2 separate regions of the Homo sapiens genome follow, and region 1 is linked to region 2. Evidence: fine-mapped expression QTL. A gene starts in region 2. The other region holds a variant in brackets. All regions are shown on one strand. Distances are between the middles of the regions. Region 1 has its middle 23 kb from the start of F2R. Region 2 holds the start of F2R (coagulation factor II thrombin receptor).

What was found.
Region 1: its variant is fine-mapped to the expression of F2R in blood mononuclear cells (TOPMed, PIP above 0.99).

The regions. Positions count from the first base shown.
Region 1 is chr5:76,736,354-76,741,728 of GRCh38, reverse strand. No RefSeq gene overlaps it. Among named protein-coding and RNA genes, the nearest start is that of F2R, 23 kb to the right of the region's middle. RefSeq lists enhancers at 97-176, 2,310-2,379, 2,480-2,809. The variant C/T (reference allele first, on the strand shown) is at 2,487.
Region 2 is chr5:76,713,641-76,719,015 of GRCh38, reverse strand. It overlaps F2R (coagulation factor II thrombin receptor), which reads right to left and starts at 2,890. Exons shown (of 2, transcript NM_001992.5): 1 at 2,621-2,890. The coding sequence starts at 2,708. RefSeq lists enhancers at 40-540, 541-1,041 and a silencer at 2,835-3,084.

The DNA of each region.
Region 1 (5,375 bases), 23 kb before region 2:
CATCCTCCACCCTCAAGTAGGCCCTGGTATCTGTTGTTCTCCTCTTTGTGTCCATGTGTACTCAATGTTTAGTTTCACTTATAAGTGAGAACATGTGGTATTTGGTTTTCTGTTTCTGCATTAGTTGGCTTAGGATAATGGCCTCCAGCTCTATCCATGTTGCTGCAAAGAACGTGATCTTGTTCTTTTTTACGGCTGCATCGTATTCCATGGGGTATATGTACCACATTTTCTTTATCCAGTCTATCATTGGTGGGCATTTAGGTTGATTCCATAGCTTTGCTATTGTGAATAGTGCTGCAGTGAACACCTGTGCGCAGATGTCTTTATGGTAGAATGATTTCTATTCCTTTGGGTATATACCCAATAATGGGACTGCTGGGTTGAATGATAATTCTGTTTTAAATTATTTGAGAAATCACCACACTGCTTTCCACAATGGCTGAACTAATACTTTACATTCCCACCAGCAGTATATAAGCTAAGAAGCACTTTTCAAAAACAGTGGTATTGTTGATCTAAAAGGAAGAAGCTGAGTCAAAATTAATATAAGTAGAGAGTTTATTTGGGCCAAGCTTGAGGACTGCAACCCAGTGTATATTGAAGTGTATATTCAAGTTGTCCTGAATATACAATCTGATTAGCAGCAGTTGCATGTGAATGTTTATAAAGGAAAAGAGGCAGTTCCTAAGTTGTTTATCAAAATTTACATTAAAATAACATAAGCTGTTGATTGGATACACATTGTTCTTTGTATCACAGATTCCAGGAACATGAAGATAACAGGGAATGTAGCTAGTCAGGAACAAAATGCCTTTTTTTTTTTTGAGATGGAGTCTCTCTCCGTTGCCCAGGCTGGAGTGGCGCCATCTTGACTCACTGCAACCTCTACCTTCTGGCCTCCTGGGTTCAAACAATTCTCCTGCCTCAGCCCCCCGAGTAGCTGGGATTTCATGAGCATGCTGCCATGCCTGGCTAATTTTTGTATTTTTAGGAGTGTAGGGGTTCCACCATGTTGACCAGTCTGGTCTCAAACTCCTGACCTCAAGGGATCCTCTCGCCTCGGCCTCCCAAAGTGTTGGGATGACAGGCATGAGCTACCACACCACCAGGAACAAAATGACTTTAAATAATTGCCCACAGGCATGGGGGGTGGTGGGTAGGGGGAGGGTATGTGCCGGGGGTGTGACTGAAGTCCTCTACTCCCGTCTCTCTGGGCCTAATAAATTTTGCACACCTCACATAGCTCAGACTGCTGAGGGATTTTTCTTTTCTTAGTATCAACCCTGGTTTACACATCAGAATCTTCTGAGGAGCTTGAAAACAATATCAATGTCCAGGCCTCGCCCCCAGAGATTGGCACTGGAATTGTTTAGAAGCTCTCCAGTGATTCTATGCGCAACCAGAGTTGAGAACTGATTTAGTTTCTTTTCTTTTCTTTCTTTCTTTTCTTTTTTTTTTTTTTTTGAGACAGAGTCTCGTTCTGTTGCCCAGGCTGGAGTGCAGTGGTGCCATCTCGGCTCAGTGCAGCGTCTGCCTCCCGGGTTCCAGCAATTCTCCTGCCTCAGCCACCCGGGTAGCTGGATTACAGGCACGTGCCACCATGTCTGACTAATTTTTGTATTTTTAGTAGAGACAGGGTTTCACCATGTTGGCCAGCCTGGTCTCGAACTGCTGACCTCAGGTGATCCGCCCGCCTTGGCTTCCCAAAAAGCTAGGATTACAGGCATGAGCCACCAGGCCTGGCCAACTGATTTAGTTTCTAAAACTTGTTACAAGGCAGAGCTGATAAAATTCTAAATCTGAGGTCTTCAAATTTTGTGCTTCCTAACTAAACATTAAGTATTAGGATTAAATCCCAAAGCCAGTTAGCTTCTGGAGGATGGGAATATATTATTTGTCTTGTTTTTTTTAAAATATGTGTCAGCTAGTTTCAAGAGCAACTAGATATCCCAGGATAGGAAACAAAACAACAAAAATAGATATCAAATGATTATGGTTTTGCTCACGAATGCATCTCAGTATTGGACAGCCCACCCTTCGTGGTGTTTTCACTTCCTTGGATGGGTCGCATAGCAGCACACCAAAATGACCTGCAGATGTAGTCATTAAGATAGGCAAAACAGCCAGACTGGCCCTGCCACCATGCAGGCTACTATAGATGCAGCTTTCTTTTCTTTTTTTTTTTTTTGAGATGGAGTTTCGCTCTTGTCATCCAGGCTGGATGGCACAATCTCGGCTCACTGCAACCTCTGCCTCCTGGGTTCAAGCAATTCTCCTGCCTCAGCCTCCTGAGTAGCTGGGATTACAGGTGTGTGCCACCACATCTGGCTAATTTTTGTATTTTTAGTAGAGACAGGGTTTCACATGTTGGCCAGGCTGGTCTCAAACTCCCGACCTCAGGTGATCCACCCGCCTCGGCCTCACTAAAGTGCTGGGATTACAGCGGTGAGCCACCGTGCCCTGGCCAGATGCAGCTTTCAAAG[C/T]TCATCTCCTTACTGCTTATGAGTCATTTCCTGAAGTGATAAACACACAGCCTGCTGGGTTGAAACTGTACATGCTGTGTTATCTGAATTCTGAGATGCTACTGAATTTGACCTCTGGTTTTCCGTGTGTTTCCATAAGACTAGCATGCAATCAACAGTCCCCATGACAACAAACTTGGCGCTTGAGTTTCACTTTACAGGAATGCCACCATGGGTAGAATCTGCTGCTGTTCTGAATTGTCTCTTGGTCTTCTGGTCTGAAACTTTGCTCAGCAAGCACCTCTCTCTTTCCTTTACACAGCAGGTGGCTGAAAATCAGACCTCACACAGAGCTTCCTGTTCTGTGGACCACACCATACCTGATGACGTGAATCAGTATCTTTTCTTTTCTTTTTGTGACAGGGTCTCACTCTGTCACCCAGGCTGAAGTGTAGTGGCACCATCTTGGCTCATTGCAACCTCCGCCTCCCAGGCTCAAGCCATCCTCCCACCTTAGCCTCCCAAGTAGCTGGAACTACAGGCATGAGCCATCACGCTCGGCTAATTTTTGTATTTTTCGTAGAGACGGGGTTTTGCCATTTTGCCTAGGCTGGTCTCGAACTCCTGGGCTCAAACCATTCATCCGCCTTAGCCTTCCAAAGTGCTGGGATAATAGGCGTGAGCCACTGAGCCTGGATGTTGAATCAGTTTCTTGCTCCAAGACTTGGAACCCCTCAGCTCTGAAACAGCCAGAAACCCAGAGTGGTGCCTGCAGCTCTAAGCCAACTCTTTACCCCTGTTTGCTTTTATGCTTTTATAATAATTACCAGTTTATCTGTTTTCTTCAAGTCAATAAAGTTGGGACATCTTGGATAAGGGCAGTGGTTTTCAAACTTCTTTTGCTCAGAACACCTTAATACACTTAAAATTATTGAGGACCAGCAAAGAGCCTTTGTTTATGTGGGTTGCATCCATTGGTGTGCTGGAGTCAACTTGTACCTGCTCACAAGAATTCAATATTCAGGAAATTTGTCAAGCCAACTGTTAAACAGTTGGGAGCTTGAAACTGGAAAAGAAGGGAGTATTCACACCATCAAAATTGGCAAATGCTAGTTTGCCAGATCAGGCTTTTTTTCTTTTTGTGGAGATCCTGCTTAGCAGCACATCACTGACTTTTTTTCTTTTTCATTTTTTGAGACAGCCTTGCTCTGCTCTGTCGTCCAGGCTGGAGTGCAGTGATGCCATCTTGACTCACTGTAACCCTCGCCTCCCAGGCTCAAGTGATTCTCGTGCCTCAGCCTCCCAAGTAGCTGGGATTACAGATGTGCACCACCACACCCAGCTAAGTTTTTTATTTTTAGTAGAGATGGGGTTTACCTATGTTGCCCAGGCTGGTCTCGAACTCCTGGCCTCGTGATCCGCCTGGCTTGGCCTCCCAAAGTGTTGGTATTACAGGTGTGAGCTACTGCACCCTGCTGCCAATGATTTTATCTACTGATATTTTCCATATTAGACATTAAAATGGAGAACTTTTGAAAATATCTATTTCAGCTAAAAATGACAATAAGCCCATTACATGTTAAAATAAATACTATATTTTTCAAAATTTTTTCCCAAAACAATAATTTAAGGAGGAGAGTTGCATTGTTTTACATTTTTGCAATCTCTTTAATGACTGGTGTAATAGGAGACAGTCAGATTTTCGTCTCTGCTTCTGCATTCAATCTGTTGCACTTTCACATGTTGTGTAGCTTCTGGAAAACTCATCTGTCCACTTATGAGAGAAACAGACCAAAAAAGGCAAATAATATCTTGGTATTTGAAGAGAGTTTGACCTTGCAGATCTCCTGAGAGTCTCAGGAACTCTGAGAATAATTGCATTAGAGAATTTCTCCTCTCTTCTCACATTGCAGCTCACTTAACCACACCTCCTTCACAAAACACAATTAGGTTTATCCTGTGGTCAATTACTCTTCACACACATTTGGTCTAGTAGTTTCAAAAGGCATAGCCACATAACAGGCTAATTATGCCAGGAAATTACCATTGGTGAACTGTTTTTCCCCTTAATTTTCACGACAGCACCTGGCTGAAGATAAGCTGCTAATGGATGGTCCAGGCCCCAGAAACTTAAATAGCTTGGTCATCAATGCTGCTTAACCTTTTCCACTTGCTTCTGTAGCTCAACTTCCTCAAAGACATGCCAACGGCAAACAGTTTTTAAAATTTCTTAAATTCAGAAGTATAACCTAAAATTTTCCAAGTGTATATTCAATAGCCAAGCATTCCATTTCCTTAAAAATGCTATTTTTAGCTTGGTGGAAAAAACATTTTTTTTTTTTGGATACATGGTCTCACTCTGTTGCCCAGGCTGGACTGCAGTGGTGCAATCATGGCTCGCTGCAGCCTCAACCTCTTGGGCTCAGACGATCCTCCCACCTCAGCCTCCTGAGTAGCTGGGACCACAGGCATGCCATCGTGCCAGGTTAATTATTTATTTATTTTTTAATTGAGATGGCGTCTCACTATGTTGCTCAGGCTGGTCTCAACCTCCTGGTCTGAAATGATCCTCTGGCCTCAGTCTCCCAAAGTGTTGGCATTATAGGCGTGAGCCACCATGCCTGGACAAAAAAAATTTTTGTGTTAGCAAAATTTAAGGTTTTTTGAACTCAATCTATTCCTTGAAACACACGTGAAAAGTCCAGGCCTTAGAAACTTAAAAAGCTTGTGTGTTAACTTATAAAAATTCTGTATGTTAACAAAATCCTTGTTTAGTTGAAATAATTTTTTCATTGACTATGACTCTAGAAATAATTTATCAAAAATTTTTTTATTTTCAACCTTGAGAAGTACTAGTCATTTTGCTTTAAATTTCCCCTCCTCCCTTCTGCCTGAGGGAGTGCTAGACAG
Region 2 (5,375 bases):
GATGGGGCTGGGTGAACTGGAGGGTGAGTAATAGGAGATGGCTGGAGAGGGGCTGGGGACCCTCCTGCAAGGGGAGGAGCACTTCATTCCATGCCAGAGAATTGGGCTTGACTCTGTGAGTAGGAGGGTAGCAAGTGGAATTGCCCACCAAGTTCTCTCTGTCATAGTCACCACCAGCTATTCTTGAACACTTTAACCCTCTAGAGCCCCATAAAATTTATAAACATCACCTTTTACTCTTGGATGTTGGCCCTTTTAATGATCACATATCATCTCACTTAAATTGTCTAGACGAATGTAAACTGGTTGATGAATTTACACATTTCTCAACAACTATCTGCTGAGTGAACATTTGTTTTAGTCACCATGGGGATAAATAAAACTTTATAATCTTAGTTGGGAGAATGAGACACACACACAAAGTGACAAGGCAGGAAATGCCAAAATGAGTGGGAACAAAAAGTCGGGAAGTGCTGGAGGAAGGCTCAGCTTGGTGGTCAGGGCCAGCCCTGGGAGGGCTTCACCGCCCCTCTTGGCACACAGAGCTGGTAATCCTGGACAATAAACTCTATCACAGCGGTGGCGGTTCAAGGATGGGAGGCACTGTTGGATGCCTCAGAGTCCCAGCACCACTACCTTATGACAGACAATGCTTAGAATTGTCAATGCATGGTGGTAATAGAAAGTAAACCTATCTTGGGTTGATTTTATTAGTGATTTTAAATTTTCTAAAGACAAAGCCCCACTTATTCCTAATTGCTTGCACCCAGGGTGGGTGGACTGCCCCTTCCCTGCCCCACCCGCCACCACTTGCTTAGCCGCTGTCTCTGGGTCTTAGTTGCAGAATCAGCAAAAGGGGATAAATACCCACCTTAACAAGGTGTTTTGACAAGGTGAAATGAGACAATCCAAGTGAAAATTCCTTCTGGCCCAGGGCTTGACATGGAATATGGCACTTAGCAAGCGCTCCTTTTCCTCTATCATACTCCTTTCTTCTTTCCCTCCCAAAGTGGTTCCAGAATCCAGTGTTGATAAACTAGCCAAGTTCATCCACCTGCCTTTCTGTCTACACCAGCACTGTCCATATTAACATGCACCACTCCTGCCATGAGGATGTAAGAAGCTTGGCAGAAACCAGTACGCTTTGACTTCACTCCCTAATGAGGCTACACACCTTGCTGGGAGGCCACTGTGAGAAAGGGTGCAGCATTTCTATAAGCTCTGTTCTCCACCCCATGATCCAAATCTCAAACAAAACACTGGATTCTCAAGAGCGTGTCCTCAAACTACATTGTGCAAATTACATAATGGTATGTGAAATCATATCTCATCGCAAACAATTTTTCAGGAGTTCTCGGTGTTCTCTCAAACACTTTCGGCAACAATGCTCACTTATCTGCAGGCAGGCTAGTTACTGCTAAACACTGGGCCCCAGTCTGGAGCTCTTAGTTTTCCCAAAAGCATCTCAAAACTCACCCTGAACAAAGACAGAGAGGCGAGAACATGCTATGTCTTTGTCACCTCTTAATCTTGATGTGTCTACACTTTTTTTTGAGTGTGGGAGCAATATAGAGTGCACATTCTTTTAGCGATAACAAGAAAACCCGCTAGAACTTCTTTCAGCGTAAAAAAAATGGCTCAAAGCTTATAAAATACTATTGTTATTAGGAAATTCAAAAACACTTTTCTCACTTTCTAATTAGCGCCTTTACAGGCTAAAAACAACTCATCTGTGCTGCTCTTGGGGAAAGGGATACAGAAAATATTTGACCAAATAAATTAATCAAATTTATTTATTTGGTCAAGTGGCCAGATACTTAAAAATAGACTACTAGTGGGGAAAATATTCTAGGGGAGCAACCTTCTTGCAGTGGATCAGAAATCTCGTTAAGAAATACTGGGATCCCACAGTGTTCGAGGGAGCCCGGTCCTGGGGAGGGATCTCTCTCTTCAACTCACTTAGAAGGAATGGGTTCTAGGTAACAACAAAATCCTCTCCATGTCCCCTCCCCCGCCACCACGCGGAGCCTCTGCTATTGTCACCATATATCTCGCACCCTGCGCACCTCCTGGACACAAGGCCGGGCCGGGGGCTGCTGGTACTGATTCTCTGCTAAACATGCCAAGGGACTGCCTGGGCTTTTCTCTACATCACTTTTCTCGCCTGTAAAATGTGCAAGAAAAAAACTTCCAACAAAGCAAAACTTCAGCGGCAGCGGTTCGCCACTTTATATTTTAAAGATCGAAACGTTTATTGGTGGAGCAACGTGAGAGCTTTTCTTTTTGGGGGTGGTCCTGGGAGAAACACAATGACAAGTGCAACGCAGGACTGCAGGCTCCCCCAGGGGGCTTCCGCTCCATCCTCCTCCATATCCAACACCCCGTGGCAGGCGGGCTGCACCCTCCAAGATCGAGTCCAAAGGGGCATCGGCTGGGCCCGCGAAGGGGGTGGCACGCCCCACCTAAACGTGACTGGAAAAAACTCCAGATCTCAGCCCAAATGCCAGTTTGGCTTTCGGAGGAAACTGAGGCAGGGGTGAGGAGAAGGCGCAACAGTGACCCCCGCAGTCTCCCCTCGGCGTCCCTCCGCCCGCGCACCCCATTCCCGTGCATCTCTCACCTGGCCTGCGGGCCCGGGTGCGGGCAGACAACAGCGGGCCGCACAGACTGAAGCAGGCGGCCACCAGCAGCAGCCGCCGCGGCCCCATTGTCCCGGGCTCTGCGCGGCGCTGCTCCGGGAGGCTGCCCCGCCTCGGGCTGCTCCGCTTCACCCTCTCTCCTGACTTCTGCGGGTCGGGGAGCCGGTCTTCGCGGCAGGCAGAGCGCAGGGTGCCCACGGGTAAGATCAGGGTCCAAGCGACCCTCGGCGAGCGCTGTGTCTGGGGCGGTTAGCGGGGCGGGGCGGGACTGGGGCGCGCGGTCGCGCGGGCGCGAGCGAGGAAGGGCGCCCTCCGGCGTGCAGTGAGAGTCTCTGCGCTGGAGCCGCTCGGCGCCCCCTCCCCGCGGTCCCTCAGCCGCCGCTCGCAAGCCCCTCTGGCTCTGTGCGCCCCGCCCCGCCCCGCCCTGCCCTACTGGGGGGCCCTGGCCGCCGGCCACTGCCGGGCCTAGAAGTCCAAATGAGAAGTTTTTTCCTCTGGGCACCGTTGATTCGCGAAGCTGTCAGTGACTCACACTGGCGGGGTCCTTGGAATGGGGCCGCACGGCTCGCAGGCTGCTTCCCGCGGCCGTCTCGACCCTCCTGGGATGTGGAGACGTCGACAGTGGACGCCCCGGCCAGGATGCGTCCACGCCCTGCAGCCCCGCAGCCCTGGCGTGGCCTCCCGTCCTCCCTCCCTCCGTGTGGGACACCGGCAAAGTTCAGTTTTCGCTAAAAGTCTAAAAGGGACTTCTGCTTTTGTAACGTGGGGATCACGGATTTAAAAGTTTATGATGTAGTGACAGGGTTGCCCCTAAATGAGAAAGGGCCCTTGAGTCTGGACAGAATTCTTGAACTTTTATACGTCTCTCTTTATTTCGCGAAGTTAGGCGTTTCATACGCCGGGCACTCGTTTCCCCCACACGCAGACTGCGAGTGGAATAGGAAGAGCGGCTTCTCCCGCTTCCCCCCCGCGCGGCCTCGCGGAGCTCTTCCCTTTCCCGCGCCGCCCGCCGGGGTCACCTGCGCATCTGGGAGGAGGGCGCGCGTCTGCCGGTGAGGCCGGCGTTCTAGGGCCGCGGGCGCCCAGGAGAGAAATGGCCTGGTAACTTTCCAAGTGTCCTTCACACGTTCTTGAACGATATTACAGTTTGTTTTGTTTTTGAGGCAGGGTCTTGCCCTGTCGCCCAGGCTGGAGTGCAGTGGCGCCAACACGGCTCACTGCAGCCTCGATCTCCCTGGCTCAGGCCACCCTTTCGCCCCAGCCTCCGGATTACCTGGGACCACAGAAAGGCGCGCGCCACCATGTCCGGCTAATTTCACTGCTGGCCTCAAGCGATCCTCCTGCCTCAGCCTCCTAAAGTGCGGGGATTACAGGCGTGAATCACCGCGCCAGGCCTGATATTAAAGGAGTTTGGCTAAATTCAAGGCACAGGGCGGGGACACTCGCTTGGCAGTCTGCTAAGGGCCCCCAGGGGCGTCGCGGCTGGGGGTGGGCAGGAGGAGCCTGCAGCTTAAGTTGCTTTGCCACTGGCTCTGGTGCGTGCGCCTTTCAGACTCCAACAGGAAATGGGTCCCCAAATAGCTGTTTCTAGGAAAGCTCAGCCGCAGCCCCTTCTCCTCTTAACCCAGCGCACTGATGTGCGGGCATATTCGGAGTTCTGTGGTTGATAAGCTGCAGCTGAGAGCCGGTGGTCAGTTTTCTAAGCCTTTTTTAAAAGTGAATTTCGCACGAAGAGTATCATTCCCCCACTAGAGCCCGGACACTTACATCCGTGGAGAAAGTACGATCAGAGGCGATTTCGTTCTTCCCTGTATTCTCCCATCATCCTCAAAGGACAGTACCTTGTTGTACACAGAAGTTGATCACTAAATTGCGGAAGTACCCAGTTAAATAAAGCTTTTTAAAATCTATCCCCGTTCAGTTATCCTCTGGAAACATACCCAAGAGTAAATGTGAACAGTTAAAATTACATAGTTCTTCATTCACTATTAAACTATTTTTCATTATTCCTAAGACGTCATTGATTTTACAATTTATCATTTTAACCCATTACCACAAGCCAGAAAAAAATGTGACATACCAATGATTGTAAGAAACACTCCAATTTCAGGGTTATGAAGAAAAGGCATTTTAGAATCAATGAAACACAGTGGAAAATATAAACACATATGACAAAATTTCTGATAGTTGAAGGATATGAAATGAAAAATAAATTACCTTCTGCCTCCCCTCCCCTAGTTGCCATCTGACCACTAAGTTTCCCCTCCTTCCTTCCTTCCTTCCTTCCTTCCTTCCTTCCTTCCTTCCTCCCTCCCTCTCTTCCTTCCTTCCTTCCTCTCTTCCTTCCTTCCTCTCTCTCTCTCTCTGTCTTTCTTATTTTCTTTCTTTCTTTTTTTTCCTGAGGCGGAGTTTCACTCTTGTTGCCCAGGCTGGAGTGCAATGGCGCGGACTCGGCTCACAGCAACCTCCGTCTCCTGGGTTCAAGCGATTCTCCTGCCTCAGCCTCCCGAGTACTTGGGATTACAGGCGCCTACCACCGCGCCTGGCTAATTTTTTGTATTTTTAGTAGAGACTGGGTTTCACCATATTGGCCAGGTTGGCCTCAAACTCCTGAACTCAGGTGATCCACCCGCCTTAGCCTCCCAAAGTGCTGGGATTACAGGCATGAGCCACCGCATCCAGCTACCTGACCACTAAGTTTCTGTTCACCATTCAAAAAATCATATCCACATACAA